Linked DNA regions of Homo sapiens: regions 2, 3, 4, 5, 6 and 7 are each linked to region 1. The links come from fine-mapping of genetic effects on gene expression. A gene starts in region 1. Each other region holds a variant in brackets. All regions are shown on one strand. Distances are from middle to middle. Region 1 holds the start of PATJ (PATJ crumbs cell polarity complex component). Region 2 overlaps PATJ (PATJ crumbs cell polarity complex component). Region 3 overlaps PATJ (PATJ crumbs cell polarity complex component). Region 4 overlaps PATJ (PATJ crumbs cell polarity complex component). Region 5 overlaps PATJ (PATJ crumbs cell polarity complex component). Region 6 overlaps PATJ (PATJ crumbs cell polarity complex component). Region 7 overlaps PATJ (PATJ crumbs cell polarity complex component).

Evidence for each region.
Region 2: its variant is fine-mapped to the expression of PATJ in whole blood (TOPMed, PIP above 0.99). The same link has a PIP of 0.9 or more in blood mononuclear cells, esophagus mucosa, esophagus muscle, fibroblasts, iPS cells and left ventricle.
Region 3: its variant is fine-mapped to the expression of PATJ in cerebellum (GTEx, PIP above 0.99). The same link has a PIP of 0.9 or more in cerebellar hemisphere.
Region 4: its variant is fine-mapped to the expression of PATJ in whole blood (TOPMed, PIP above 0.99).
Region 5: its variant is fine-mapped to the expression of PATJ in atrial appendage (GTEx, PIP above 0.99).
Region 6: its variant is fine-mapped to the expression of PATJ in whole blood (TOPMed, PIP above 0.99). The same link has a PIP of 0.9 or more in sun-exposed skin.
Region 7: its variant is fine-mapped to the expression of PATJ in whole blood (INTERVAL, PIP above 0.99).

The regions. Positions count from the first base shown.
Region 1 is chr1:61,740,092-61,744,159 of GRCh38, forward strand. It overlaps PATJ (PATJ crumbs cell polarity complex component), which reads left to right and starts at 2,389. Exons shown (of 44, transcript NM_001350145.3): 1 at 2,389-2,464. PATJ-DT (PATJ divergent transcript) reads right to left here and starts at 2,693. Exons shown (of 1, transcript NR_185910.1): 1 at 1,907-2,693. RefSeq lists a silencer at 2,141-2,850.
Region 2 is chr1:62,015,591-62,019,658 of GRCh38, forward strand. It overlaps PATJ (PATJ crumbs cell polarity complex component), which reads left to right. Exons shown (of 44, transcript NM_001350145.3): 29 at 2,266-2,357. The region is part of intron 1 of LOC107984965 (a long non-coding RNA gene); the gene reads right to left. Among named protein-coding and RNA genes, the nearest start is that of MIR3116-1, 61 kb to the right of the region's middle. The variant A/G (reference allele first, on the strand shown) is at 2,361.
Region 3 is chr1:62,043,455-62,047,522 of GRCh38, forward strand. All of the region lies in intron 30 of PATJ (PATJ crumbs cell polarity complex component), which reads left to right. Among named protein-coding and RNA genes, the nearest start is that of MIR3116-1, 33 kb to the right of the region's middle. RefSeq lists an enhancer at 1,879-2,408. The variant G/A (reference allele first, on the strand shown) is at 2,241.
Region 4 is chr1:61,777,904-61,781,971 of GRCh38, forward strand. All of the region lies in intron 7 of PATJ (PATJ crumbs cell polarity complex component), which reads left to right. Among named protein-coding and RNA genes, the nearest start is that of PATJ-DT, 37 kb to the left of the region's middle. The variant ACAAT/A (reference allele first, on the strand shown) is at 2,028.
Region 5 is chr1:61,911,868-61,915,935 of GRCh38, forward strand. PATJ (PATJ crumbs cell polarity complex component) reads left to right here. Exons shown (of 44, transcript NM_001350145.3): 26 at 2,720-2,797. Among named protein-coding and RNA genes, the nearest start is that of MIR12132, 68 kb to the left of the region's middle. The variant G/A (reference allele first, on the strand shown) is at 2,391.
Region 6 is chr1:62,114,345-62,118,412 of GRCh38, forward strand. It overlaps PATJ (PATJ crumbs cell polarity complex component), which reads left to right. Exons shown (of 44, transcript NM_001350145.3): 36 at 2,188-2,335; 37 at 2,788-2,874. Among named protein-coding and RNA genes, the nearest start is that of MIR3116-2, 38 kb to the left of the region's middle. The variant G/A (reference allele first, on the strand shown) is at 2,196.
Region 7 is chr1:61,869,135-61,873,202 of GRCh38, forward strand. The region is part of intron 20 of PATJ (PATJ crumbs cell polarity complex component); the gene reads left to right. Among named protein-coding and RNA genes, the nearest start is that of MIR12132, 25 kb to the left of the region's middle. The variant T/A (reference allele first, on the strand shown) is at 2,430.

The DNA.
Region 1 (4,068 bases):
GAAGGATATTAAGGTGGAAGGATTGCTTGAGTCCAGGAGTTTGAGGCCAGCCTAGGTAACATAGTGAGATTCAATTTCAATTTAAAAAATAAATAAATAAAAATAAATTTAAAAAGAAGAGACCAATGTTTGCAAGGTGATTCTTTGAGATAATTGGTCTCCACCTTTCTTTTTTTTCCTATTTAATTTTTATTATAGGTTCAGAGCTACATGCACAGGTTTGTAGGCCAGGTGCAGTGGCTCACGCCTGTAATCCCAGCACTTTTGGAGGCTGAGGCGGGTGGATCACGAGGTCAGGAGTTTGAGACCAGCCTGGCCAACGTGGTGAAACCCCATGTCTACTAAAAATACAAAAAATTAGCCGGGTGTGGTGGCTGGCACCTGTAATCCCAGCTACTCAGGAGGCTGAGGCAGGAGAATGGCTTGAACAGGGAGGCAGAGGTTGCAGTGAGCTGACTGTGCCACTGCACTCCAGCCTGGGCAACAGAGCGAGACTCTGTCTCAAAACAACAACAACAACAAAAAAACCAGGTTTGTTACATAGACAAATTGTAGGCCATGGGGTTTGATATACAGATTATTTCATCACCCAGGCAATAAGTATAGTACCTGATAGGTAGTTTTTCAATCCTCTCCCTTTTCCCACTCAATCTCCAACTTTATTTTGCCCCCGACTTGGAAAGCCTTTCCTTCTCCATTTTACCTAAATTAATCTCAGACTCTGGTTAAGACCTGTTTAAGTTCTAACCCATGCTTTCAAAAAACATAATAGATCTCTTCATTTTCTGAGGTCTGGCTTCCATCTGGCAATTTGCCTGTTATTTCCCTCAGTAGTTTGTTAGTTCCTAAAAAGCAGAAACCATGCTGATATTGTGTGTCTTCTTACCATGACTAACAAGTGTTACATTTCTTTTAAAACAAGGAAGCAAACTACAAAGCACCAAGTGCATGATCTTAATTTTATTTATTTATTTATTTATTTGAGATGGAGTCTTGCTCTGTCGCCCAGGCTGGTCTTGAACCCCTGGGCTCAAGTGATCCTCCGACTTCAGCCCCACAGAGTAGCTGGGACTACAAGCTCACGGCACCACTCCGGGCTAATTGTTGTTGTTGTTGTTGTTGTTGTTTTTGAGGCGGGGTCTCTCTCTGTCACCCAGGCTGGAGTGCAGTGGCAGGATCTTGGCTCACTGCAACCTCTGCCTCCTGGGTTCAAGTGATTCTCCTGCCTCAGCCTCCTGCGTAGAGGGGACTACGCATCCACCACACCCGGCTAATTTTTGTATTTGTAGTAGAGACGGGGTTTCATCATATTGGTCAGGCTGGTCTCGAACTCCTGACCTCGGGTGATCCACCCGCCTCGGCCTTCCAAAGTACTGGGATTACAAGCGTGAGCCACCGCGCCCCGCCTGAAAGTCTTTATGTTGTAGTTGTTTTGTATCTATTCCTCATCTTCCTGGGGACAGGGATACCATTTTACACATCTTCCCACAATCAATCACAGTGTTTAACAATTACTGTATGTACTCTATGAATAAGATACCTGAAGATTGATTCTCTTTATCGTTAATGTGTGGACTGTATCAGGCAAAGTAAAACCCCTATCATCAAAAGCCTAAAGTTATTAAAGGGAGTGGAAGAAGGCTATCGGGACATATTTTTCTCGAAGGTGTGACATCACAAATAAAAGAAAATTAACGTATAGTGAAATCATCACTGTAGTTAGAGTCAAAATGCCTTGCCTGTGTTCCAAACTTTGGGCCAGTCAACCTACAGGGTGCACGGTTTCCTCATTAGTTTCTTCAGAGAGTAAATGAGACATTGCATAAGCTAGCACCTAGCATACAGCAGGCAAATACTGCTGGATTTCTTTCTTCCACTAAATGAGAAGAAAATAATGACTCCCACATTTACACGTTTTAGAATATTTTATTTTGCGTCAGCGAATAGAGAAAACAAAGGAGGGATGAGAGAACAGGAAAGGAAAGGGGCAAAAAGACAAAGTGTTAAGCGGATTGACCCAACGCTTTCATCGATATCCTCCTCAATTTCCTTGATCTTGGGTCTCGCTCTACACGCAGGCCTCCAACCACACCGGTCTGTCCGGATCTCCCTCCCCGTCAGTGGCGGCTGTCCCCACCACGCGCGGTCTGATCCGCCACCCCGCCCCCACAGCCCACTTTTCCCAGGCCCTTGGCCATCCCGCGCCCGGTAGGAATTCACCTGCACGTAAACAGCCAGGGCAACCGTCCTCCCTCCTTGGAGCCCGCCTCCCGCGGCCCCGGGCTCCCTCCCCCGCCCCCTGCGCCACCCCGGTGCCCCGCCCCGGGCGGGGAGAGTCGGGGCGAGGGGAGGGCCTGCCAGGTGAGGCGCGGTCACCCTGGGCCTCTCACTTCCGCCCAGGTGAGGCAGGGCCGACACCGAGCCCGCCCGACCCGGGCTCCCACCTGCTCCTCCAGCGCACCAGGTAAAGCGTGAGGTCCCGGCTGTGCAGTGCGCGCTCGCCCCTGGGTGTCCCCGCGCCTGGAGGCCGGCCGGGGGCAGCTCCCTCGGGGCTTCCCGGGCCTGCCTGCCCTGCCCCCGCGCTCTCCCCGCCCGCCCGCCTGGAGTGGGTGGGAGCCGGAGGTGGAGGGCGCCGCCGGGCGCTCAGAGGGGCCGCGGCGAGGATGGGGCGCCCGCGGCGTGCGTCCGCGCTGACCCGGGAGGCGGGGCGGGGGCGCCGTCCTCCTGCGTCGGGCCCGGGTGACCCCACGGTGGTCCCCGCCCCGCCGCGCAGGGCTCGCCGAGGCCGCGGGCAGGGAGGGGCGCCGCCCCGCCTCCCCAGGCCTTTCGGGCCTCGAATCTCGGCCCACTGGTATTCGGGGGTGGCACGGATCCTATTTTGCGCCCAGATCGGTGCCCCTGTTTCGCTCCCAGAGCTGGGCGGAGTCTTTCCCTCCATCGGTGGCCGTGGAAGGAGGGAACGGGGTGAGGGGACAAAGAGGAGGGGGTGCTCAGAGCCGGGCTGAGGGGGCGACTTGGGCCCGGCCGCGTCGCGGCGCCTGGTCATCCCGTAGCGGAGGTTCCCAAGCCAGCGGTCAGGCCCTGGGCTCTGCCAGCCTTGCTGCGTAGATGGGGAGGTTCTGTCGGAAAGTGCTTCCAGCCTTAGGGGAAATTCCTGGACTCCTGCTTTTAAATCAAGCTCAGGAAAGCATTTTCAGATCACTCCCACTCTCCAAAGCGCCCCAGCCGTCCCGCACGCAGGCCGAATTAAGTGAACACCCCTTCACTTGGCACTTTGTCATATTTCCAAGTGGCTCTTGTCACTTTGAATTCCAGTTGGTTGTTTACTGGCTTGCCTCTGCCATTTAGAGGGTGCCCCTTTCAGGGCCTTATTTTTCGACTGCATTTAGGGTCTGGCTATTGGTAGGTGCGCGACAAGTGTTTCTTAAAGGAAGGCAGAAGCCTTTGGAAACCCAGAAGGACAATGTCGGTTCCACTGAGGATGATACTACCACATTCTGGGCTAAATTCCTATTGGCTGCAAATTAATTTGCACACATCTATTTGAAAGGAGTGGAGGCAGGGGCAGCGGTTAAAAACTTAAATCTGTTTGCAGCATTAGAAAATGTTAGGTGAGATTGAGCCTTTTAGCTAAAGTGAGCTTTGATGTTTTTAGGGCCCCTAATGGCCTTTAAGATGTTAACAATAACAACAACAACAAAACACTCCAAATGTGTTGAATTTATTTGGGAATGAGAAATGAGCGTTATAGCCCGAGGTGCACAGGCCTGGCAAGCCATATATGCATGGAAGAGGGGAGGGTAAAAGGAAACTTTTATTGGCAAAGTAAGTGCAGATAAGCTGCGTGAAAACAGAGTTTATTGGTTTTGCAGACTGAAAGCCAGAGTTGGCCATTGTTGAAGATGCCATTACTGGGCAGGTGTTATGGAGAGCATCTTATCAGGCCTGGCAACCTGCCTCATGCCTGTTATCTCAGCTACTTAGGAGGCTTAGGCAGGAGGATCGCTTGAGGCCAAGAGTTGGAGACCAGCCTGAGCAACATGGCTGTCTTTACAGAAAAAGCTTTTT
Region 2 (4,068 bases), 280 kb after region 1:
GGCGCAATCTCGGCTTGCTGTAACCTCTGCCTCCCAGGTTCAAGCTATTCTCCTGTCTCAGCCTCCCCAGTAGGTGGGACTACAGGTGTGTGCCACCACATCCAGCTAATTTTTGTTTTTTGTTTTTGTTTTTGTTTTTGTTTGGAGACAGAGTCTCAGTCTGTCACCCACACTGGAATGCAGTGGCGCCATCTCAGCTCCCAAGTAGCTGGGACGATAGACATGCACCACCACGCCCAGCTAACTTTTGTATTTTTTAGTAGAGATGGGGTTTCGCCATGTTGACCAGGCTGGTCTCGAACTCCTGGCCTCCAGTGATCCATCTGCCTCAGCCTCCCAAAGTGCTGACTATAGGCACCCAGCTGAATTTTTGTATTTTTAGTAGAGACAGGGTTTCACCATGTTGGCCAGGCTGGTCTCGAACTCCTGACCTCAAGTGATTTGCCTCCCTTGGCTTCCGAAAGTGCTGGGATTACAGGTGTGAGCCACTGTGCCCGGTGAGATTGATGATCTTGGTGCAGAACGAAAGCTGATAGAATAAGAGGCAGAGTGAGGAGGTAGCTCAAGATTGGTCTTTCCATCAGCCTTGGATATGAATCCCAGCTTTACCACTTAGGAAAGGTGATGGAAGGGCCACTTTTTAGATAGTTGAAAATACTATATTTTCATTTCATATTTTAAAGTGTTCACTTCCACATGCTGTCACATTATAACTATTTTGACAAAAAAATAACATTTTTAGATGTCTTGAAAGGAACATCAGGTGTGCCTTAAAATGCAAAATTCCAGAGACAGAACAAATTAGATGCTAATTGCAATTCCTTTTACTGTCCCTTATATGGTACACTATACTATCTCTTAAATAGTAGAAATTGTCAATGCCACACTTGAATAGGAATAGTATAGTTATAGATCATTAACTACTTTTTAAAGAGATAGAAGGAAAAAGTCAAAACTGTATGAGCTGTTATCAATTGGGTGAAATAAAATAAGAGAGTTTCCAGCTATCATCATAGTTTATCAGTGGGAAAATCAGGAATAAAGAAATTTAGAATTTAAATGTTGTTTAGGTCATCTTTTGGTAGATCCAATCAAGTTTAAAATTCTACCATGTCTTGGATATGAGCATATGACTCATTGATGGCGTTCAGTAAAATCTTTCTGTGTAGTTGGTTTAAAATTTGACTTAAAACAGGGATATAATATTTACCTTCCCTAGAGTAACAAATTTATGTTATGTAATAACCTTGACATGTTTACAAAATCATGTTTAATGGGCTCTCCAGAGCTCCAGTGAATACCACAATTTGGTCTGTTTTCAACATTTTTAAGGAATCTGGGAAAGCTGTAGGAAATGAAATATGTGTCCTAAACTTTTTGTATCAGGCTTAACTACTGCTTTCTTGAAGTTTAGCAAAAGGATAAAGGACTGTATGTTCTTCATTAACTGTAGTCAAAACTGAATTTAAGGATTTTTGATAGCTGTTTAGAATTACTGTTTGAATCTCTACTACAAAGAATATTAAGATTTTTAGCATTTGAGAGTCCTAATATACCCACTTAACAATCATTAGACTTACTTTGGGAGGCCAAGGCCTAAGGATCACATGGTCAGGAGTCCTAACCCAGCCTGGGCAACATGGTGAAACCCCATCTCTACTAAAAATACAAAAATTAGCCAGGCATGGTGGTGCACACCTGTCGTCCCAGCTACTCGGGAGGCTGAGGCAGGAGAATTGCTTGAACCTGGGAGGCAGAGGTTGCAGTGAGCCGAGATCATGCCACTGCACCCCATCCTGGGTGACTAAGCGAGACTCCGCCTCAAAAAAAAAAAAAAATCAGTAGACTTAGGGCCAGGTGTGGTGGCTCACACCTGTAGTCCCAGCACTTTGGGAGGCTGAGGCAGGCAGATCACTTGTGGCCAAGAGTTTAAGACCAACCCCAACCTAGCCAATATGGTGAAACCTCTTCTCTACTAAAAATACAAAAAAATTAGCCAGGCGTGGTGGCACATGCTGGTAATTCCAGCTACTCAGGAGGCTCAGGCATGAGAATCACTTGAACCGAGAAGGCGGAGGTTGCAGTGAGCCAAGATTGCACCATTGCACTCCAGCCTGGGCGACAGAGTGAGACTGTCTCAAAAAAAAAAAAAAAAAAGAAAAGAAAAGAAAAGAAATTCAGTAGACTTTATCATTTAATTCCAAGTATATACATATATACTTGTAGACATGTATAATTTAGTACATTGTGGTTTTTCCCAAACAGATAAACAATCAGATTCTGTATGGAAGAAGTCACCAAAATGCATCTGCCATTATTAAGACTGCCCCATCAAAGGTCAAGCTGGTTTTCATCAGGTA[A/G]GATTGCTAGATCTGGTTTTGCAAAATCAAAGACCTCTTCTGAAGATGTTATTAGTGTAAGACTATGTCATCTTTGATTTGTCTAGCGAAATCACTGTTCCTTCTAAAAACATATATTCCTTTTGTAACTGTCACTTCAAGAAAAGTATTGATTGTTTTGATTATGAGATTGTCTTATTTGCTTATGTTTCATGGGATAGAATTGGTAGCTGAGGCTAGTATTTATATTTCAGTTATAAAACATTCTTCCCTTTCTGGATCCATTTTTCCTGTATATAAATATAATGAAACCTGCTAACTTCTCTTCCTGTCACTACTATTTGGTACATTTGCTGAATCATTAATGTCTTCATTAAAGAACAAACAGGAAAACAGAACTGAGGACATTCTTAGGAGCTTCCTTTTAAGAGTGCTGGTGAGAAGCTCAGAGTAGAGAAGATGTTCAGCACTGCTGCCTAGAGTTGTGTTGTGTGTTTGGGGCTTCACATTTACTCAGACCTCCCTGCAAGCTGATTGAGCCCTCATGGTACAAGTAAATCAGAATTAGGAATCTTACTGTTTGTAGTCAACATTGCCACATTAGCAATAGAAATGAGGTTGTTTGATTCTCTTTACTGGACTGAAATGACAAGTAAATCTGAATTACTTTTAGGTCATGTACCTAACCCTCTATGTTCACTGTAGCTCTGCTTCTTTTTCCTTCTGGGACTCAGTTATCATCTGTAAAATGGGATAATAAAGCATCTCCCTCATTCATTGTGATATTTCAGAAATTGAAAATGCTCAATACAACATCTAGCATAGAGTAAGGGGTGAAAGAATGTTAGCTGCTATTTTAGGATTATGACAATCATTATTATTCTTCCCTTTCTCGTTAGTTACCAGCAGTAAGATCTGTCCATTCCCAGGGACCACTGGGATTAGGAGGTAGTTTTATTCCCAGCTTGGGCACTAACGTGATTGAAATATCCCTTCCCACTTCTACTTTGCTCCTGAAGAAATCCTACATTAGGGCCAGGCACGGTGGCTCACGTCTGTAATCCCAGCACTTTGGGAGGATCACCTGAGGATCACCTGAGATTAGGAGTTTGAGACGAGCCTGGCCAACATGGCGAAACCCTGTCTCTACTAAAAAATACAAAAAATTAGCCAGGTGTGATGGCGCACAACTCTACTCCCAGCTACTCAGGAGGCTGAGGCAAGAGAATTGGTTGAACCCAGGAGGCAGAGGCTGCAGTGAGCTGAGATCGCACCATTGCACTCCAGCCTGGACGACAGAGAGAGATTGTCTCAAAAAAAAAAAAAAAAGGCCGGGCATGGTGGCTCACTTTGGGAGGCTAAGGCAGGCAGATCACGAGGTCAGGAGTGCGAGACCAGCCTGGCCAAGCCAACATGGTGAAACCCTGTCTCTACTAAAAATACAAAAATTAGCCAGGTGTGGTGGCTACTCAGCTACTCAGGAGGCTGAGGCAGGAGAATTGCATCTTGAACTCAGGAGGCAGAGGTTGCAGTGAGCCGAGATCACGCCACTGCACTCCCACCTGGTTGACAAAGCGAGTCTCTGTCTCAAAAAAAAAAAGGAAATCCTATATTAGCATCCTTTTCTCTCATCTAGTGGCACTTTCTGGCTTTCTAGTTTTTCACTCTATTTTCAGAGAGTGAAAGCTTCCTCCTTCACCTATGTCTTTGTATATTAAGATGAGCCCTT
Region 3 (4,068 bases), 300 kb after region 1:
AATAATAATTAATTCTATGGACTTGTTAGAAGTATTAAGTAATGTTTATAAAAGGCTTAGCACTATTCCTGGCACATGATAAGACCTCATTTTTGTTGTGATTGTACTTATATTATCACAGCCCTCTAGTAGAACTCCCAGCCTCCAGCATCTTCCATTTTTAATAGTTACATACAAAACAGGATTTTTTTTCCTTTTAAAAACTAAATTGATAAAAATTGTATATATTTATCATATACAACATGATGGGTTTTTTTGTTTGGTTTTGGTTTGGGGGGGGCAGTTATTTTTTGAAACAGGATCTCGCTCTGTTGCCAGGCTGGAGTGCAGTGGCATGATCTCAGCTCACTGCATCCTCGACCTCCCAGGCTCAAATAATATTCCTGCCTCAGCCTCCTGAGCAGCTAGGACTATAGGCACGCACCACCATACCTGGCTACTATAAGATTTTTTTGCAGAGACAGAATCTCACTATGTTGCCCATGCCCAGTCTGCTGGGCTCGAGAGATCCTCCCACCTCAGCCCCTCGAGACAGTGCTGGAATTACAGGAGTGAGCCACTGCACCTGGCCAACATGATGTTTTGAAATATGTGTATGTTGTAGAATGGCTAAACAAGATAATTAACATATGTATTTCTTCCCGTACTTATTTTTGTGGTGAGAACAGTTGAAATCTACTTTCTTAGAGATTTTCAAGAATACAGTACATTGTTGTACATTGTTATTAACTGTGGTCACCCTGCTGTACAACAGATCTCTAGAACTTATTACTTTAACTGAAATTTTGCATCCTCTGACCAACATGTCTTCAACCTTCACCCCATCCACCAGCCCCTCCCACTACTCTCTGCTTCTATGAGTTCAACTTTTTAGATTCCACATTTAAATCCCAGAGGGTCTGAATTTCATTCTTTGGTTTCGGAGCTGTTGAAGGCATTTTGAACAATGAAACAATCTGATCAAGGCTGTACTCCAGAAAGATTAGTCTAATAGCAATGTTAAAGACATCTTGAAGAGGGAAACCCAATTAAGAAGCCATTGCTGTCGTCTAGTAAGAGGTACTGAGGGCTCAAATAACTTGGGTTCCGACATACTTATTCCATTTATTGACAGGACAGCCTAAATCTTTTAGAATATCTTCAATACAAACAAGGACCTCCTTTTTGCTTTCTTAGAAGTTGTGTTTTTTAAAGTACTAACTGAGATGGAACAGGCCTCATAAAGATCAGGGAGGTTGATCATGCAGGGAGTTCCATTAGCATAATTTCCATTTTATTTTAATTTTGCCTTGCCTTTCTAGAATTCTGAGCAGCCTAGTAAATAAGCTCACGTTTGGGGTTAGAAGAAAGAAATTCAGTTTGTCACATGTGGTAAACAAGGTTTTGCAGAGGGAAATATTTGTGAATTTAGGTTGGCGATGAGACTAAAATTATTTTGTGTGTTTTCTAAAAGAACATTGGATTTAGAAAATATGGGAATGGGCCAGGCACGGTGACTCACGCCTGTAATCCCGACACTCTGGGAGGCCGAGGCTGGCGGATCACCTGAGGTCAGGAGTTCAAGACCAGCCTGGCCAACATGGCGAAACCCCGTCTCTACTAAAAAAAATACAAAAATTAGCTGGGTGTGGTGGCGTGCGCCTGTAATCTCAGCTACTCGGGAGGCTGAGGCTGGAGAATCACTTGAACCCAGGAGGCGGAGGTTGCAGTGAGCTGAGATCGTGCCATTGCACTCCAGCCTGGGCAACAACCGTGAAACTCCGTCTCAAATAAAAAAAAAAAAAAGGAAATGTTTTTTCAATCCACAATAACATCCTTAACGAATTTAACTTTTATTGAATGCCTACTCTCAAATAAAATAGCATTCTTGCTATCAAGATTCGCTGTTCAGTTTGAAGAAAATTATAGACAAATGGTGGATATAAAAAAAAAGGAGTTTAAAATAATAAGCATTATCACTTCTGCAATCACTTATGTGGAAGATTTTGGGAGAGCCCAGGGGAGGGAATTTGGAACTTCCTAAAGGTCTGAAAAAGACTAACCTCAGTAGGGGTTGATCTGCAAACCTTACAAGTCTTGCCTTTTCTGTTTGTTCATCTACAAAACATAATTGACTGTGGAATCCACTGACTGTGATCTCATAGGGAGAAGTTGTTCTCCTTAAGCTGCCTGGCTGAGCAGGCAGCTTTGGACAGGTGGTTTGAAGATCAGCAAGAGACGACAGGAACACCCAGCCATCC[G/A]GATTAGCTGAGTCATCTTGGGTGTCAACTGGCCCCCATCCGTCAGCCAGATGGTCCTCAAACCACTCTAATTCACTCGTGCCTTAGAAATCACGCTGCTGACCTGTTTTCCCTTTCCCATATCAGACTCTTGGCTATTTTCCAAGCTCCTGGTGAGTGGGGTATTTTGAAGACTCCTTACCTCATGAGCCATTCTGTTCTCAGAGCAGAATCCACATTGTTGTGGCCAGGCACAGGGGCTCATGCCTGTAATCCCAGCACTTTGGGAGGCTAGGACCGAAGGAGTGCTTGAGCTCAGGAATTCAAGACCAGCCAGGGCAGCATGGTGAAACCCTGTCTCTACAAAAATTACAAAAAATTAGCCAGGCATGGTGGTGCATGCATGTAGTCCCAGCTACTTGGGAGGCTGAGGTGGGAGGATCACCTGGGCCCAAGAGGTCGAGGCTTCAGTGAGCTGTGATCATGCCACTGCACTCCAGCTTGGGTGACAGAGTGAGATGGTGAAGAAAAAAGAAAGGAAGGAAGGAAGGAAAGGAAGGAAGGGAGGGAGGGAGGGAGGGAGGGAAAGGATCCACATTGTTATGTTCTGTACCTCATTTTAGCATAAACATTACAACTTTAGCTCTACTTGTAATGTAACATGAATGTGAACATCAAACTGTTACAGACTTTAGCTCTCCTAGAAAGTAAATGCTTTATTGCTATCCTCCCTCAATTCCAACTTCCTTTTTGCCTGACTCCCAACTCCATCTAGATTTGGACTTCAAACCCTCCTCTACGGAGTCATCTCAGACTAAGAGGAAAAGTGGGGAGGCGTAGTACAGTTAAAAAGAGTATGGAATTTGAAGTAAAACAGACCTAGGGTGAAAAATGAATCAGGCAGTGGGAATGAATGAGGCCCAGATGCTCGATTCAAGGATCTTTCAGTCCCGTCAGGGAGATCAGTTCTGTACATGCATAATTAGGATACAAAAGAGATGAATGTTAAGTGACAGAGGAGGTTCAGGTAGAATGTTACAATTTAGAGGAAGGAGAGATGTCCCCCAGGTAAGGAGAAGGAAAAGATACAATGGAACAAGTGACATTTGAGACCTGGCTTTGAATGATAAATTCTGCTTCATTTGATCCTCTAGTTTCTAAGTGTGGGATGTGGTGTAGACATAGAGAGTATTTTTTGTTTCTATTCACATCTTAAAGGATGCATAGACTATTTGGAACCTAGACTGCTTTGCCCATGTTTTCTTAAATTTTACAGGTTGACGCATCCCTTAAACAGCTGTTTTCTCCTCTACTTTAGTATTCATTTTATAAAGACCAAGAATATCTTATCTTCAATATGCATATTGCTGAGAAATGTAAAAGTAAAGGTTCCTCTAATTTATTTAAGGAACGCTTTCCTTTCCCTAAGGGGACATGTGCATAATTAGATGAATGTTTTCAGCTGACGCCTCTTCATGTGAGAATCTCTCTCTTCTGGGACCAGAGGTGGTGGCCATTTGCAGGGTTACTAACAGAACCTGTGGGTTCGTTCTACAGTCTAATGTGCTGCAGCTACAAACATTAGCTATTTCTCTTTTTTTGAGACGGAGTCTCTCTCTGTTGCCCAGGCTGGAGTGCAGTGGCGTGATATCGGCTCACCGCAACCTCTGCCTCCTGGGTTCAAGCCATTCTCTTGCCTCAGCCTCCTGAGTAGCTGGGATTACAAGCACCCACCACCACGCCTGGCTAATTTTTTTGTATTTTTAGTAGAGACAGGGTTTCACCATCTTGCCCACTTGAACTCCTGACCTCGTGATCCACCCGTCTCAGCCTCCCAAAGTGCTGGGAT
Region 4 (4,068 bases), 38 kb after region 1:
GGGTCTCACTCTGTCACCCAGGCTGGAGTGCAGTGGTGCTATCTTGGCTGACTGCAGCCTCTGCCTCTGGGGCTCAAGTGATCCCCCCACCTCAGCTTCTGGGGGAGCTGAGACTACAGACCCAGGCCACCATGCCTAGCTAGTTTTTCTATTTTTTGTAGAGGTGGGGTTTCACCATGTTGCCCAGGCTGATTTCAAATTCCTGAGCTCAAGTGATCCTCCCGCCTTGGCCTCCCAAAGTGCTGGAATTACAGGTGTGAGCCATTGCACCCGCCTGGCCTTATTTTTATTTTTTGTAGAGACAGTCTCGCTTTGTTTCCCAGGCTGGTCTCAAACTCCTGGCCTGAAGCGATCTTCCTGCTTAGGCCTTCCAAAGTGCTGGGATTATAGGTGTGAGCCACCATACCCAGCCTCAATATTTTCTGAAGACCAATATGTGATATGACAAAATAATATGTAGCTAAAAGATCCTTTCAAAAATCAAGATAGATCAGTGGATTTTAATAAAATAGTGTCTGAAAGTTTGTTGATATGGTTCCAGATTCTACATTGTAACTGTATAAGAAACCACCACTTGCCAAGTTTTGGTGTGTTATCAAAGAATAGGCTGAAAGGACTATTATAATACCCCTCCCCTTTCCAACTATATATCTGATTGAGGCCAGATATTCTTCATATACATCATCCAAAACAGTATATTGTAACATACTGAATGCAGAAGCAGATGAGTCCAGCTGTTTTAAGCCAGATATTAAAGAGATTTGTAAAAATATTAAACAGTCCCACTCTTACTAATATATATATATATAGAGAGAGAGATGGAGTCTTGCTCTGTTGCCCAGGCTGGAGTGCAGTGGTGCAGTCTTGGCTCACCACAACCTCTGCCTCCCAGGTTCAAGCGATTCTCCTACCTCAGGCTCCCAAGTAGCTGGGACTACAGGCATGTGCCACCATGCCTGGCTAATTTTTACATTTTTAATAGAGATGGGGTTTCACTATGTTGGCCAGGCTGGTCTGGAACTCCTGACCTTATGATCCATCTGCCTCGGCCTCCCAAAGTGCTAGGATTACAGGTGTGAGCCATCAAGCCTGGCGAATATTTTTTGTTTTGGAAAATATAGCTCTTTTAAAAATATAATGACATAATATACATAAATGATAAAAATTAACATACTAAATATTAAATATTTTAAAAATTCCTCAGTACCAATTTTTGCATATGTATACATTTGTGGATTCATCTTTACCAGATTTCTCCAGAGAAACAGAACCAATAGGACATGCGTGTGATTACTTTAAAAAAGATATTATTTTAAAAAATTGGCTCATGCCATGGTGGGGGCTGGCAAGTCCAAAATACGTAGGGAAGGCCAGGAGGCTGGAAACCCAGACAAGTGTTGATGTTGTAGTCTTGTGTTTGAGATCTATAGGGCAGGCCGGCAGAATGTCTGAGGAAGCTCTGTTACATTCTTGAGGCAGAATTTCTTCTCTAGGAAAGCTCAGTTTTTGCTTGTGAATTCTTCAACTGATTGGATGAGGCTCACCTACATCATTGAGGGTAATTTTCCTTTACTTAAAGTCAACTGTTTGTATATGCTAATCACATTTACAAAATACCTTTGCAGCAACATCTAGATTAGTGTTTGACCAAAACAGTCAGCACCACAGCCCAGATGACACATGTAATTTAACTGTTATACCATCATTACCACAATCAAGATAATGAGCGTATTCATTACCCCCAGCAGATTCCCGTACTACTTTGTAATTCCTATCCCTCCATCCTTAATAATTTTTAAGAATGTAAAGGAGTTCTGTCTTTATCCATTTAGTGTTGCTATAAGGAAATATCTGAGGATGGGTAATTTAAAATAGGTTTATTTAGCTTACAGCTCTGCTGGCTGGAAAATTGGGCATCTGGGGAAAACCTCAGGCTGCTTCCATGGTGGAAGGTGAAGGAGAGCCAGTGTGTGCAGAGATCACGTGGGCAGCGAGGAAGTGGTGGGTGGGGGGCAACTCTCTTTTTA[ACAAT/A]CAGAGTGAGAACTCACTGCACTAAGTAAACGCACTGCAGAGAACTCAGAGCAAGAACTCACTGCACCAAGCCATTCATGAGGGATTCACCCCCATGACCCAAACACCTCCCACTGGGCCCCACCTCAAACAATGGGGATGAGATTTCAACATGAGGTTTGGGGGGGACAAACATCCAAACTGTAGCAAGTTCTGAGACCAGAATGTTTGAGAATGTTCATTTTATAGACCTTTAAAACACATCTGTGGCTGGGTGCAGTGGCTCATGCCTGTAATCCCAACACTTTGGGAGGCCGAGCTGGGTGGATCACTTGAGGTCAGGAGTTCGAGACCAGCCTGGCCAACATGGTGAAACCCCGTCGCTACTAAAAATACAAAAAATTAGCCAGGTGTGGAGGTGCATGCCCATAATCCCAGCTACTCAGGAGGCTGAGGCATGAGAATTGCTTGAACCTGGGAGGCAGAGGTTGCAGTGAGCCAAGATCACGCCACAGCACTGCAGCCTGGGCGACAGAGCAAGACTCTTTCTCAAAACAAACAAACAAACAAAAACCACACACATCTGTGGCACAACACAATATTCTTTAAGGATTCTTAAAAAAAATTTTTATAACCTGGAAATAATAAAATATTGCAGAAAATTTTGGGATGCCTTTCTTTGTATTCCCTCCCTCCTCCTGCCTCTGCCTTAGCAATTTTAATAGGTTTGTTTGTTGGAGTGGCATTTTTTTTTTTCCAAAATGCAAAGTGGAGTGGTTATTGTGAACAACAAAGGGTCAAGTAAATTTAAACAAAATCCAATAGGTTTCTTTACTGTAAGAATTTTCTGAGCTTTTAAAATACTAACATGCTTTATGAATTTTCACAAGAATAAGATGTGCAGAGTTTCCCAGATTAATCCCATTGAGGCATTGTTGGAAAAAGCCCAAGTCTGATTTTCGCCCTTTACTGGAAGGGATCGTCACTATTTCAGATCATCAAAGAGGAGGTAGAGGGTATGCTTGTCATAGGGTCATAAGTGCTCAAAGAGAAGGAAGTACTTACGCCAGACATTGTTATCTGCTTAATGTACATTATTCTCATGTAACCTTCAAAATACTCTTAGAAGTTTTATTCCCAAATTATAGATATGGAAACCATTAAGAAATTGCCCTAGGTTACAGCAGCTAGGTGAGCCACAAAGTCAGGATTGAGCCCGTACCTGTTTGATTCTGAAGTCTGAGCTTTGTTGTTTGAATTTATCCAAAGTTAATCCTAGTGTTTTCCTTTTCCTGATATACACCTGTGCACAATTGTTCACATCCATCAACAGGGAGTAGCCAGCTCTAGGAACAAGAGAGCTATTATCTCTTCTAGGGCATATGGTAAGGCCTAGCCATAGGGGACAGAGCACTATTCACTTCTCCTTTCCTCTCATGTCAGCTGATGGCAGATAAAATCTCTTCAGCCTTCTTGCTATAACCAACTTATCTCCTTCCTCAGCCTGGCCCCATTTGTTGCTTATTACCAGTCAATGTTATGCTTTCTATAACTCATGAAATGACTTAAGCTGCAGCACCCTCAGGCCCTAGGCTATGGCACAAGATGTGGTATACACCCTCCCTATTATCTACCTTTGGAGAAATTCTCAGCACACCTACATCCAAATTAGCCTCTGAAAGGAAAGAGCATAGGATTATAGTGTGTGAGCTTTAGAATCAGACAGATGAAGGCTTGAATTCTGGATCCACCTCTCACCCTGGGCAATTGACTTCTTGGCTTAATTCTATGTTTCTAAAATAGTCCCCAAGACCACTAGATTTGATGACTTGCTAGGAGGTTTCATAGGACTCAGCATACAGTTACACCCACAGCTATATTTATTACAGTGAAAGAATACAAAGCAAAATCAACATGGAAAAGGTGCATGAGGTGGAGACTGGAGGAAACCAGGCACAAGCTTCCACGAGTCCGCTCCCCATGGAGTCATATAGGACAGACACACTTAAGTCTTCCAGTGGTGAATTATGACCACACATCTGAAATGTCTGCCATGGA
Region 5 (4,068 bases), 170 kb after region 1:
AATATTAGGTACTAGCACAGTGCCTCTTCACATAGCACTGTATATATGTTAATGTATCATTACTGCTGTTTTTTTACATAAATGACACATTTCTGAGACTTTCTCATTTATTCTAAACTTTATTTTCATTCTATATTAATATATATATATTTTTATATTAAAAAATTGGATATCTTCAGCTCATTATGTTTATCATCACGTGTTGCTTTCTTTCTTCCTGTATTCCAGTTGTGCTTACCAATACCATTGTTCTATAAGGGTACCTACTTTTTTTGACACATGAACATTTTGCATATTAATCACCTATAAATATATTTTTACTTTCACGAGAAATACAGTCTTCTGTTTTCCTGAAAGGTGGAGTCTCATTGAGCATTTTGTCTTCTAAATTTTGCTAAAGATATATGTACAGAAGAACATTTCTCTGCTATTTGAAAAACAGTGGGCTGGGCGCAGTGGCTCACGCCTGTAATCCCAGCACTTTCGGAGGCTGAGGTGAGAGGATCACTTGAGGTCTGGAGTTGGAGACCAGCCTGGCCAACATGGTGAAACCCTGTCTCTATTAAAAATAGAAAAAGTAGCTGAGTGCGGTGGTTTACACTTGTAACCTCAGCTACTTGGGAATGAGGCACAAGAATTGCTTGAACCTGGGAGACACAGGTTGCAGTGAGCCAAGACTGCACTGCAGTGGCCACTGCACTCCAGCCTGGGTGACAGAGTGAGACTCTGTCTCAACGAATGAACAAACCAATGAAAGAAAGAAAGATAAGAAAGAGAGAGAGAGGGAGGGAAGGAAGGGAGGGAGGGAGGGGAGGGGAGGGGAGGGAAGAGGGGAGGGGAAGGTAGAGAGGAGGGGAGGGGAGGGAAGGCAGCGTAAACATTGTGAGTGGCAGCTGACATTCTGTCTCATCCCAAAGCTTCTATTTAGCATCAGCTAGTTTTTCTATGGGAGAAAGTAGTAGTGTGGGCAGATAGTTTCTGACTTGTCAGGGAGGCAAAGTGTTTTGTTTAAGATTCTTCAGGACAAGGAACACATGCCTGTAAACCCCACCAGTCTTTGAAATCTGTCTTAGGTTGTTATATGTATTAAACAGAGATAGAAATATTAGGTTACTAGTAGCACAGTGCCTCTTCACATAGCACTGTATATATGTTAGTGTATCGTTACTGTTGTTTTTTACGTAAATGACACGTTTCTGAGACTTTCTCATTCTAAACTTTATTTACATTCTATATTAAAAATGAAAATTTAATCTTAAATTGCATTTAGGGGAAAATGGGCTTTTTGTTTTGTTTTTAATTATCTCCAGGCAGGCAGTCTTTTAATTTCCTGAGCAAGGAGTTTTTTTTTGTCTTTTTCTTTTTAATTTATTTATGTATTTTTTGAATCAGGATCTTGCCCTGTCACCCAGGCTGGTGTTCAGTGGTGCAATTGTGGCTCACTGTAGCCTCGACCTCAGCCCCACAAGTATCTGGGATTACAGGCGCACGCCAACACACCCAGCTAATTTGTAAATTTTTGTAGAGATGGAGTCTCCCTTTGTTGTCCAGGCTGGTCTCAAACTCCTGGACTCCAGCGATCCTCCTGCCTTAGCCTCTCAAAGTGCTGGGATTGCAGATATGAGCCACTATACTTGGTCTATTTTTTTCTTTTAATCTTCATGTCTCTCACCAGATTTTATGCCAAGATTATCTGTGCTAGCTCTTTGAGGAGCTTCTTTTTATAAAATTAAACTGGTTCGTTCATTTATAAACATTTATTATGTACAGCTATGTATTAGGCCATTTCTGAGCACCAGAGAAATAGTGAAAAATAACACTGAGTTCTACTCTCATTAAGCTTATTCAGTGGTGGGAATAGATTTGTTAATTCCTCCTTATGCTAATAGTGATAGTGGAATATTGAGTACACACAGTGTGGGAGATAACATGCTTGAACTGGGGGTACAATGATGAATAAGGTAAATCTGTCAAACAGATGTGTTATCCTATGTTCTTGGATAATTAATTAGATCACCCCTAAAACTCTATCTTGCAAAATGTGATGTTTGGACTACAGTCAGTATGTGAACTTGTTTTTAGTCTTTTTCGTCTTCAGCTTCTGGATCTACGTACAGAAACCTGCATTTTTATGCCCTGATGGCATATATATAACTTTATAATATTTTAGAGTTATGTATCTTCTCAGGCTTTCCAAGTTTTATTGTTTGCTTTGAATTGTACTTCTCATACTTTTACTCTTTAGATGAAGTTACAAAGTTAAGATTTTAGCTGTTTAAACAAATACATTAAGGAATGTAATGATAGGCCAGGCTCAGTGGCTCACGCCTGTAATCCCAGCACTTTGGGAGGCTGAGGCGGGCGGATCATCTGAGGTCAGGTATTTGAGA[G/A]CAGCTTGGCCAACATGGTGAAATTCCATCTCTACTAAAAATACAAAAATTAGCTGGGTGTGGTGGCAGGCGCCTATTACCCCAGCTACTCAGGAGGCTGAGGCTGGAGAAGCGCTTGAACCCAGGAGGCGGAGGTTACAGTGAGCAGAGATTGTGCCATTGCACTCCAGCCTGGGTGACAAGAGCGAATCTCCATCTCAGAAAAAGAAAAAAACAGAAATGTAATGATTGAAAAAAAATTCTCCATTGTGGAATGTCAAGAGAAAAAAAAGGAATGATTATGTCGTTTAAACGTTTTCTTCCCCCCACCCCTTTTTTTGTCACCATAGGTCATTCCTAACGTACATAACAAGGCCAACAAAATCACCGGTAACCAGAACCAGGACACCCAAGAAAAGAAAGAAAAGGTAACTTGAACCTCTCAAGGATTTAAAAAATGTTTTTGTTTTGTTTTTGTTTTTGTTTTCCATATCTGGGCTATAATAGAAGTGGCTTTTTGATGAGTGTCAGTGTTGTAGGAGCACTATATTTATAATTTTTTTCCCTGCAAATATGACTGGTTCTTACCAGGATGGAGGACAGAAACCTGGTGCAGCATAGATGCAAAAATACTATAAACGGCCAGTCAGCCATCAACGTCTATAGATTTCTTTCCTGTTCAGACAGGCTGGTTGTTTGTCCATTCCCAGAACATGCCTCTCACACTGAGACTTTGATCTTGCTGCTCTCGCCTGGAAGTCCATTTCCCACATTGCTCTCCCATAAGAATCCTTTTCATTCTTTAAGGACCACATCAAAGGTCATCTCTCCTGAGAAAACTATCCTTCCTGTCAATCAGAATTAATCCTCCATTCCTGTTTGCCCACCTCTATTAAAGTAGAATCTGTTGACCTAAAAATTATTTTAAGATGTGGTGTCAAGTAGGGATGAATTTTCATTTTTTCTCATCAAGAGAACTTGTTGTTCTCTTGGGGAATTACTGTCCCACTGTTTTAAAATAGACCTCCTTTACCCACTGATTTGCAGTCCAACTCTGCTGTATCTCAGGTTACAAGGGGGAGTCTGTTTCTAAGCTTTCTCTTTGTTCCATTTGATCAACTTGTCTATCCCAGTACAAATGCTGCACTGACGGAATTATTAAAGCCTAGTAATCAATCTTTTTTCCTGATAGAGCACTTTCTTTTATATGTTTCTTCTTCTTAGACATGTCTTAACTATTTATATCATTTTTATTTTCCATATCCATTTAGAATCAGATTATTAAATTCCACAAAAGTTTCTTTTGGGATTTTGGTTGGAATTTTGTTGAATCTATAGATTAACTTAGAAAGAAGTTATATCTTTTGGATGTTGAGACTTTTAAGCCATTAATATGATTTTTTAATTTGTTAAATTCTTTTATTTCTTTTAATTAATTTTTATAATTTTCTTTTCTTTCTTTTTTTTTTTTGTTTTTGGGAGACAGAGTCTTGCTCAGTCGCCAGGCCAGAGTGCAGTGGCGTGATCTTGGCTCACTTCAACCTCCACCTCCTGGGTTCAAGGGATTCTCCTGCCTCAGCCTCCCAAGTTGCTGGGATTACAGGCATGTGCCACCATGCCCAGCTAATTTCTGTATTTTTAGTAGAGACAAGGTTTCACCATGTTGGCCAGGATGGTCTCGATCTCTTGACATTGTGAT
Region 6 (4,068 bases), 370 kb after region 1:
GATTTCTAAAAATAAGATATTTATGAAAATTTGACAACATGGGTCATATTTCTGAGCAAGGTCTTACCAGAAAAATTGTCATATCAAGATAGAACTCCAAGTCCAATCAATCCAGACTGATATATTTCTGTACAGAGTAAGAACAACTAGCAAGGTTCTTTCACTTGGAATTACTAAGATCGGAGTTTTGCAGAGGTTGATTAAAGCAACCATACCCAAGAAATAGCTAGCATCAAGAATGAGATTTATCCAATGTTGGGTCAAGAACATTGCTTCGACATGGAAATTAACATGGAACATTGCTTTTCGTGATACTGTTAATTTCATACTATGTTGAAACTAGTTGAGTAGACATAGTTAAGAGATAAACATAATTCTTCACGATAGTAGTTTTCTATTAAGAAAAATGTCCTGCTGGGCACAGTGGCATGTACCTGTTGTCTCAGCTATGTGGGAAGATCACTTGAGGCCAGGAGTTCAAGGCTATAGTGTGCTATGATCATGCCTGTGAATAGCCACTGCACTTGAGCCTCTTGGGAAACATAACAAGACCCCATCTGTAAATTAAAAAAAAAAAAAAGAAAAGGAAAAAAGAAAGATGTCCCCAAAGTAATAGTTTGCACCAAAAATGTAGGTAGGTAGATCCTAGTGGCCAGGCTACTCTTTTGAAATATATGTTGCTGCCAGATGCAGTGGCTCATGCCTGTAGTCCCAGCACTTTGGGAGGCCGAGGTGGGTGGATCACCTGAGGTCAGGAGTTCAAGACCAGCCTGACCAATATGGTGAAACCCCATCTCTACTAAAAAATACAAAAAATTAGCCAGGCATAGTGGCAGACGCCTGTAATCCCAGCTACTTGGGAGACTGAGGCAGGAGAATTGCTTGAACTTGGGAGGTGGAGGTTGCAGTGAGCTGAGATCACGCCATTGCATTCCAGCCTGTGCAACAAGAGCGAAACTCCATCTCAAAAATAAATAAATAAATAAAAAGAGGTATATGTTGCCTAGGCCAGGCATAGTGGCTCACGTCTATAATCCCAACACTTTGGGAAGCTGAGTTGGGAGGATCGCTTGAGGTGAGGAGTTCAATATCAGTCTGGCAACATAGCAAGACTTGTCTCTAAAAAAATTTTTTAAATAAAGAAAAATGAAGTCTATACTGCTTAACAGTCGTTTGTTCCAGGATAATATTACTAAGTTTCTCTTGCAGTGAATTGGAAAGGTAAGTAATAGCTTGAAACAAAGCCTAGCTTCCATGGTTTACTGGCTTTTAGGTATCTAGTATGTATTTATCCCAACAGGGCTATAGGATTTCCAGGTAATATCCTAATATGGCCTTAAAGTGTATCAACCATCTTGTTAAGGAAGAAATCAAGTTGCTTTTATGCATGTTATGTTATATGCCCTCACAGACCTCTGGTGACTAGCCTAGTGTCTGTCCAGCAGGCCAAGCTGTTATTAAAATAAAAATATTAGCTACAATTTTTGAGTACTGATTTTGGGCCAAGTATTGTGCTGTCATAATTTCATTTTTTTTTACTTCAGCACCATAGAACCATCACTCTGAAAATGCATTACCAAACAAAAAAAGCTGAGTCTCTTACATTTCTAAACAAAAATCAGTGCACATCTGGGTGCAGAGCAACTGACAGAGCCAGTGTTGAAGTTTGCTTTCTTGTTTTGACACATGCGTATACCTGGTGCGGTTTTATTTACAGCAATGTTTTTTGCTTTTAGTGAATGTCAGTATTTCAGGTTGAGTTTGTAAGGAACATTTACATTCCTTAGCACAAAAACTTGCATTGTAAAGGATGAGATGTATAGTTCTCAAAAGTCACTATTTTCTTTGACTAACAATTCCATCACCAGGACTTTATCTTAAAGATATACTTACAAGTATTCATTGCTCATTGCAATAGTTAAAGAATGGAAATAACCTGTATGTCCATCAGTAAGCTACTGGTAAGTGAAATTATGAAACATCATAGAATAGTATGTAGCTATTTAAAAAATGAGGAAGCTCCAAGTGCTGATAAAGGCAAATTACCAAGGTATGAAAGAAACAAAAAGAAAACAAAACTGGAAGAAGAAAGGAGCATATATGTGTGTGCATCCTGTCACACACACACGTATTATGCATGGAAATATTAGGTTGTGCCAATACTGCACTGCTGTATGGTATTAACAGAAATGGAA[G/A]CGGAGTGTTTATTTCTGACATCGTGAAAGGCGGAGCCGCAGACCTGGATGGGAGATTGATTCAGGGAGATCAGATCTTATCTGTGAATGGGGAGGACATGAGAAATGCCTCACAGGAGACAGTGGCCACCATCCTCAAGGTGAGTTGCTAGGCTGCTTTTTACCCAGCTGGCACAACTGAAGTCCAGTGGGAACTGTTCCAGTCTAGCTTGATTATAAAATGGGTTGGATTTTATACTAACTCTAGTTTTTACTAGAAATTTAATCTCTGATTATTTTAAATGAGCCAGAATAGCTTTAAAAGAAAGTTCTGTTATATTGACTAACAGAATGAAAGGGAACCTGCTTTGGGATTTCACAAGCAAGTTTTTCATACTTGTGAGAATTCTAAGTATCCATCACTGTTCTTTAAATGCATTTGATGAGATGGGCCCTCCAGGAGCCACAGAATTCATCCTCCTCTCTCTAGGGCTATGCCTGTTGCTTTCATTACCCTTTTATAATTTGTGGCTGCAGGGAGAGGCTCTGTTAAGATATTTCAGAATATAAATGCTACTACTTTTCATTTCTGTTCTTTTCTTGCCTTTCCAAGTGTGCACAGGGACTTGTGCAGCTAGAGATTGGAAGACTCCGAGCTGGTTCCTGGACCTCCGCAAGGACGACATCACAGAACAGTCAGGTTGTCGATGGCTTCTCATCAGACTGACTCACTCTTCTGCCCCCACTGGGAGAAAGTTCCCCATTTAATAAATGGTTGTTTGGAAATAATATCTAATGTACAGCATATTCACAGCACCAAGTTTAGTGAACTTTCATGTGTTTGAAATAAAAATGAAAGGTGGGATGGAAATTCATTAATCCCTAGATTTTTCTCTCCTTTATTGCTTGCAAATGTTTTCTTGGAAGCTCTTTTCTCTCTATTAGTTCTATATTGCCTATGCACGCATGTACACAGCTGTGTTTATTTAAAAAAAAAAAAAGGCAACATCTGGTGGCAATTTGACCCTCATTAGCACAACATTGTTCTATTCATTCAATTAAATATTGCTATAAAGTTAACTTGTGACTAGCCACTCACACATGCCGAGGGCAATTAATGGCATATTCCTAGGAGAACCAAGTGTGGGGGTTTTTCCTGTGGGAGGGAGGGCTTAGTGGGTGATATTTTGTGGGTTAGCAAACATCTTATATTTATTTGCAAAGCTGATGTAAGTGCCATTTTTTTTTAGCAAAGTATATTTCACTATATTTTTTTCATTGTAATGGCTGACAAAATCAAGATGGTAGACTGTATGGTTAGCCCCATGTGGTACATAATGAGACTATAGAAACTTATATGTGACCCCTAAGTCTCCTCTCTGGGTTATGGATAGGCCGCCTTAGTTTTGAGGTTAAAAGCATGACTTTTGGTCCCCTCCCTGGTTGCCTTATTTCTGAAGCCTCTCCAAGGCCTTTGTTCAGAAGGTGCTCTGATCTTACAGTTAGCACACAGTTACTTCTGGAAAGCTATTAGCTGCCTCCTGTTCCTCACTGGTGTTAAAAAATGAGTGAGGAAAATACCATTGTTCAGATAGGATTACAGACTAGCTGGCTTGTCTTAGGGAATCTTCAAAGCAGTCAAACCCAATAAACACCATATTAAGTTTGAAACACTTTTTTTTTTTTTCATTTCTGGCTTACATAATGGGCAGCAAATATCTAAGACATGGTGCTGCTGTAGGATTCCATGAGTTAATAGTTAGTGATGATATTGACCAGACTTATATCAACAAACGAAACAGTTGTCTAGCCAGGCTTCTTCCTTAATGGAAGACTCATCTTTGTTGAATGATTTCATTAAAGCCTTATTGTATACAGAAGATTAGAATGAAGC
Region 7 (4,068 bases), 130 kb after region 1:
CTCGCTCTGTCGCCCAGGCTGGAGTGCAGTGGCGCCATCTCGGCTCACTGCAAGCTCCGCCTCCCGGGTTCACGCCATTCTCCTGCCTCAGCCTCCCAAGTAGCTGGGACTACAGGCGCCCGCCACTACGCCCGGCTAATTTTTTGTATTTTTAGTAGAGACGGGGTTTCACCGTTTTAGCCGGGATGGTCTCGATCTCCTGACCTCGTGATCCGCCCGCCTCGGCCTCCCAAAGTTAACATTTTTGATTATGTTGATAATTTTTTAAATGCAGGGCCACTGATCCTTCTGTTTGCTTATTGCCATTCCTCAAGAGGGCATTTATAGTAGCTTACTCTCAATCTTCCTGGGGGTCGACCCACCTCAAGAGGGAATGTTTGATAGCCTCATTTCCTAGAACTTGCTGCTTAGTCACATAAGGGAAGCTCTGAGAAGGCTTTTTTCTGCATCTGTTAAATCTAAAGTATCTTTAGTTTATAATAATCTTCATACTGAAGCCAGATAGTCCCCTGACCCCTTTGTGGGACTTGTGACAGAGGTGCCCTGTTTACTCAGCCCACTGCTCTCCTCGAGGGAGGGAGTGTGTGAGTGAACAAGGTGGGAACTGGAGTACATGCCTGCTGGAACCATCTGACTGCTTTGGCACTGGCAAGAGTAAACTCCACTCACTCAGACCTGCAGCGTTCACCCCTCATGGGAGGGGAGCACTCAGGTGAGCGGGTGCAGGAGCCTGGGCAAGCGCTTTTGGGTACTGGCAGGAGCAAATTCTGTGCAGGCCCAGCGGCAGCATCTAGGGGAGGTGCGTGCAATCCCCGAAGCCCCAGTGGGCGTGTTACGGTGATCTTTTAGCTCTGCCATCTGCGGACGGCTTAAGTGTTAACAGTTCAGTGAGCCCTCTGCCTTTTCACGTGAGGCCGCTGCCCTCTGCCAGCGAGGGCAAAGGGCCAGTGTGACAGCCTTTTGTATCCACACTTGTGGCTCCTGAGCGCTTTCTGGTATCCAGGAAAAATGAGGCTGCATGAATGAATTGAAGGATGGCAAATGCGGGGATTTTATTGCCAATAAAGTGGCTCTCAGTGGGAAGGGGAGCTGCAAAGGAGATGGGGAGGTGGGTAGGTAATCTTCCCCAGAAGTCCAGCCATCTCTGGCTGGATTATTCTCCAGAGTTTCACCATCAAGCTGTCCCTCTAAAGTCAAGCTGCTTTTCTCTGATGTCCAGCTGTAGTCCCTGACATCCAGCTGCTTCTTCTCTCTGCCAGCTGAGTCTAGGGTCTTTATAGGCACAGGATAGAGCAGGGCGAGGGCATGGGTGGTTTAGGAAAAGGTAACATTTGAGCAGGAAAACAGTTTGGGCCATGGTTTTAGGCTTGAGGGTGGGGTTTTGTCAGGGACCTGCCCTTAAATTTCTCTGCCTCCTGTCACTACCAATACCAACTCTGAGGTTCCTATAGGTCCCCACCATATATACCACATTTTGTTTTTCCATTCATCTGTTGATGGATATTTAGGTTGTTTCTACCTTTGGCCATTGCGAATAATGGTGTTATGAACATTGGTATATAAATATCTGTTGAAATCCCTGCTTTCAGTTCTTTTTAGTATATACTCAGCAGTGGAATTGCTGGATCATATGCTAATTCTATATTTAATTTTTGGGGAGCTATACTGTTCTCTACAGCAAGCAGCTGCACCAGTTTATATTTCCATTAGCAAAGCACAAGGTTTCAAATTTCTCCACAGTCTCTCCAACACTTGTTTGTTGGCTTTTTGTTTGCTTCTTAGGAGTATAAAGTGCTATCTTATGTTTTGTTTTGCATTATCCTAACAATTAGTGATATTGAGCATCCTTTCATGTGCTTATTTGGCCATCTTTATGTATTCTTTGGAGAAATGTCTGTTCAAGTCCTTTGTCCATTTTTTAAAGATTTGGTTTTTGTTTTTTTTGTTTTTTTTTTTTTGCCTGAGGGTTATTTACCTAAGAATAATTCTATGTTCTTATTTTCTTCTCTTTTTAGAAAAAAAAACTTCTCTATTTGAAAAAAAAAACCAGAAAAAAGAAATTCTTGTTTATTTAATTTATTTTTTATTTTTTTTGAGATGGAGTTTCACTCTTGTTGCTCAGGCTGAAGTGCAATGGTGCAATCTTGGCTCACCGCAACCTCTGCCACCCAGGTTCAAGCGATTCTCCTGCCTCAGCCTCCCAAGTAGGTGGGATTACAGGCATGCGCCACCATGCCTGGATAATTTTTTGTGTATATATATATATGTGTATATATATACATATATATGTACATATATATGTGTATATACACATATATATGCGTATATATATGTATATACATATATATGTGTATATATGTATATATACATATATACGCATATATATAAATATGTGTGTGTGTGTGTATATATATATATATATATTTTTT[T/A]TTTTTTTTTTTTTTTTGAGATGGAATCTCACTCTGTCACCCAAGCTGGAGTGCAGTGGTGTGATCTCGGCTCACTGCAGCCTCTGTATCCTGGGTTCAAGCAATTCTCCTACCTCAGCCTTCTGAGTAGCTGGTATTACAGGCACCCACCACCACGCCCAGCTAATTTTTGCATTTTTTAGTAGAGATGGGGTTTCACCACATTGGCCAGGCTGGTCTCAAACTCCTGACCTCAGGCTATCTGCCCACCCTGGCCTCCCAAAGTGCTGGGATTACAGGCGTGAGCCACCACGTCTGGCTTTTTTTTTTTTTTTGTATTTTTAGTAGAGACGGGGTTTCTCCATGTTGGTCAGGCTGGTCTTGAACTCCTGACCTCAAGTGGTCCACCCACCTCGGCCTCCCAAAGTGCTGGGATTACAGGCTTGAGCCACTGCTCCCAGCCAGAAATTCCTGTTTATAAATATCTCACCTATCATACCCAATGTATTGAAATCCCAGATTTGGATATCAATTTTCTTCTTCTTCATTTACTATTAACAGAATTACCATTAACTTTGTTTAAGAAGTCCAAATGGCCCCAAATTACAACCTTCTTCTTTTTAACTGCTCAGTTCCTTCCAAATCCTCACTGTTTTCTGTAAGAAGTTCTTGCTTATTTTATTCTAGGCAACTATGTAGTCAGATCCCCTTTCTTACCCCTATTTAATATTTGAGTTGAATTCTATGTTCCTTAGGCTCCATTAGTTATCTGATATAGTTACATACTTACCCGAGGCGAGCAAAAATCACCTGGTGACCATGAAGCAGACCATCTGGAGGCAAAACTCCTTATCTGAGGAATTTAGATGTATAATGAAGAGAGCAAAGATTACCTGGTGGTCATCAACTATGCCATCCAGAGGCAAAACTCCTTATCTGAGGAATTTAGAAGCAATTAGACTTCCCTGTTATCTAAAGCCAGCATCTGGTTACCAGGCTGCTTTCCCAAAAATTTATAAGTAGCTAGAATTTCTATATGTCTCCTGAATGCATGCATATCGAAACTCATTGTGCAGCCTTTGCTGACATCAAGGCACCAACATGTCTACAAATGTAATCAATCTATCATGACCTGCAAAACTAATAGGGTCCAAATTACCCTTACGCTCCTGCTTTAAGGTCTATAAATACCCCTAAGGAAAATCCTCGGAGGCCCACTCAGTCCTCTCTTGCTGAAGCGCCCCACTACAGTGTTCTTTCTGTCTAATAAAACTTGACTTTTCAAGCCTGTGCTGTTGTCAGTAAATTCTCTTTACTACCTGCGTGCCAATCACTTTCTGTTGCTGGGGCTCTGCTACCTTGCCCAGCATTACCAAATTCATAATCTACTTTGCAAAGCTGGAAGTATTTTGTATATCGGCTTATGAATGATCCTTCTCTTATCATTGAAGTCTGACCACTTTACAGAAAAAGTAGACCATTTTCAAAACAAAATTCACATTTTGTTTTGAACAACCAAAATTCCAGCAATAAAGAATAACATAGTGTTACCTTAAATAAATTATGGTACATCCCTAAGGTGGCTATAAAATAGTCATTTAAATTTGTACTGATAAAATTTCTTATTTTTATTATTTATTTATTTATAAAGACAGGGTCT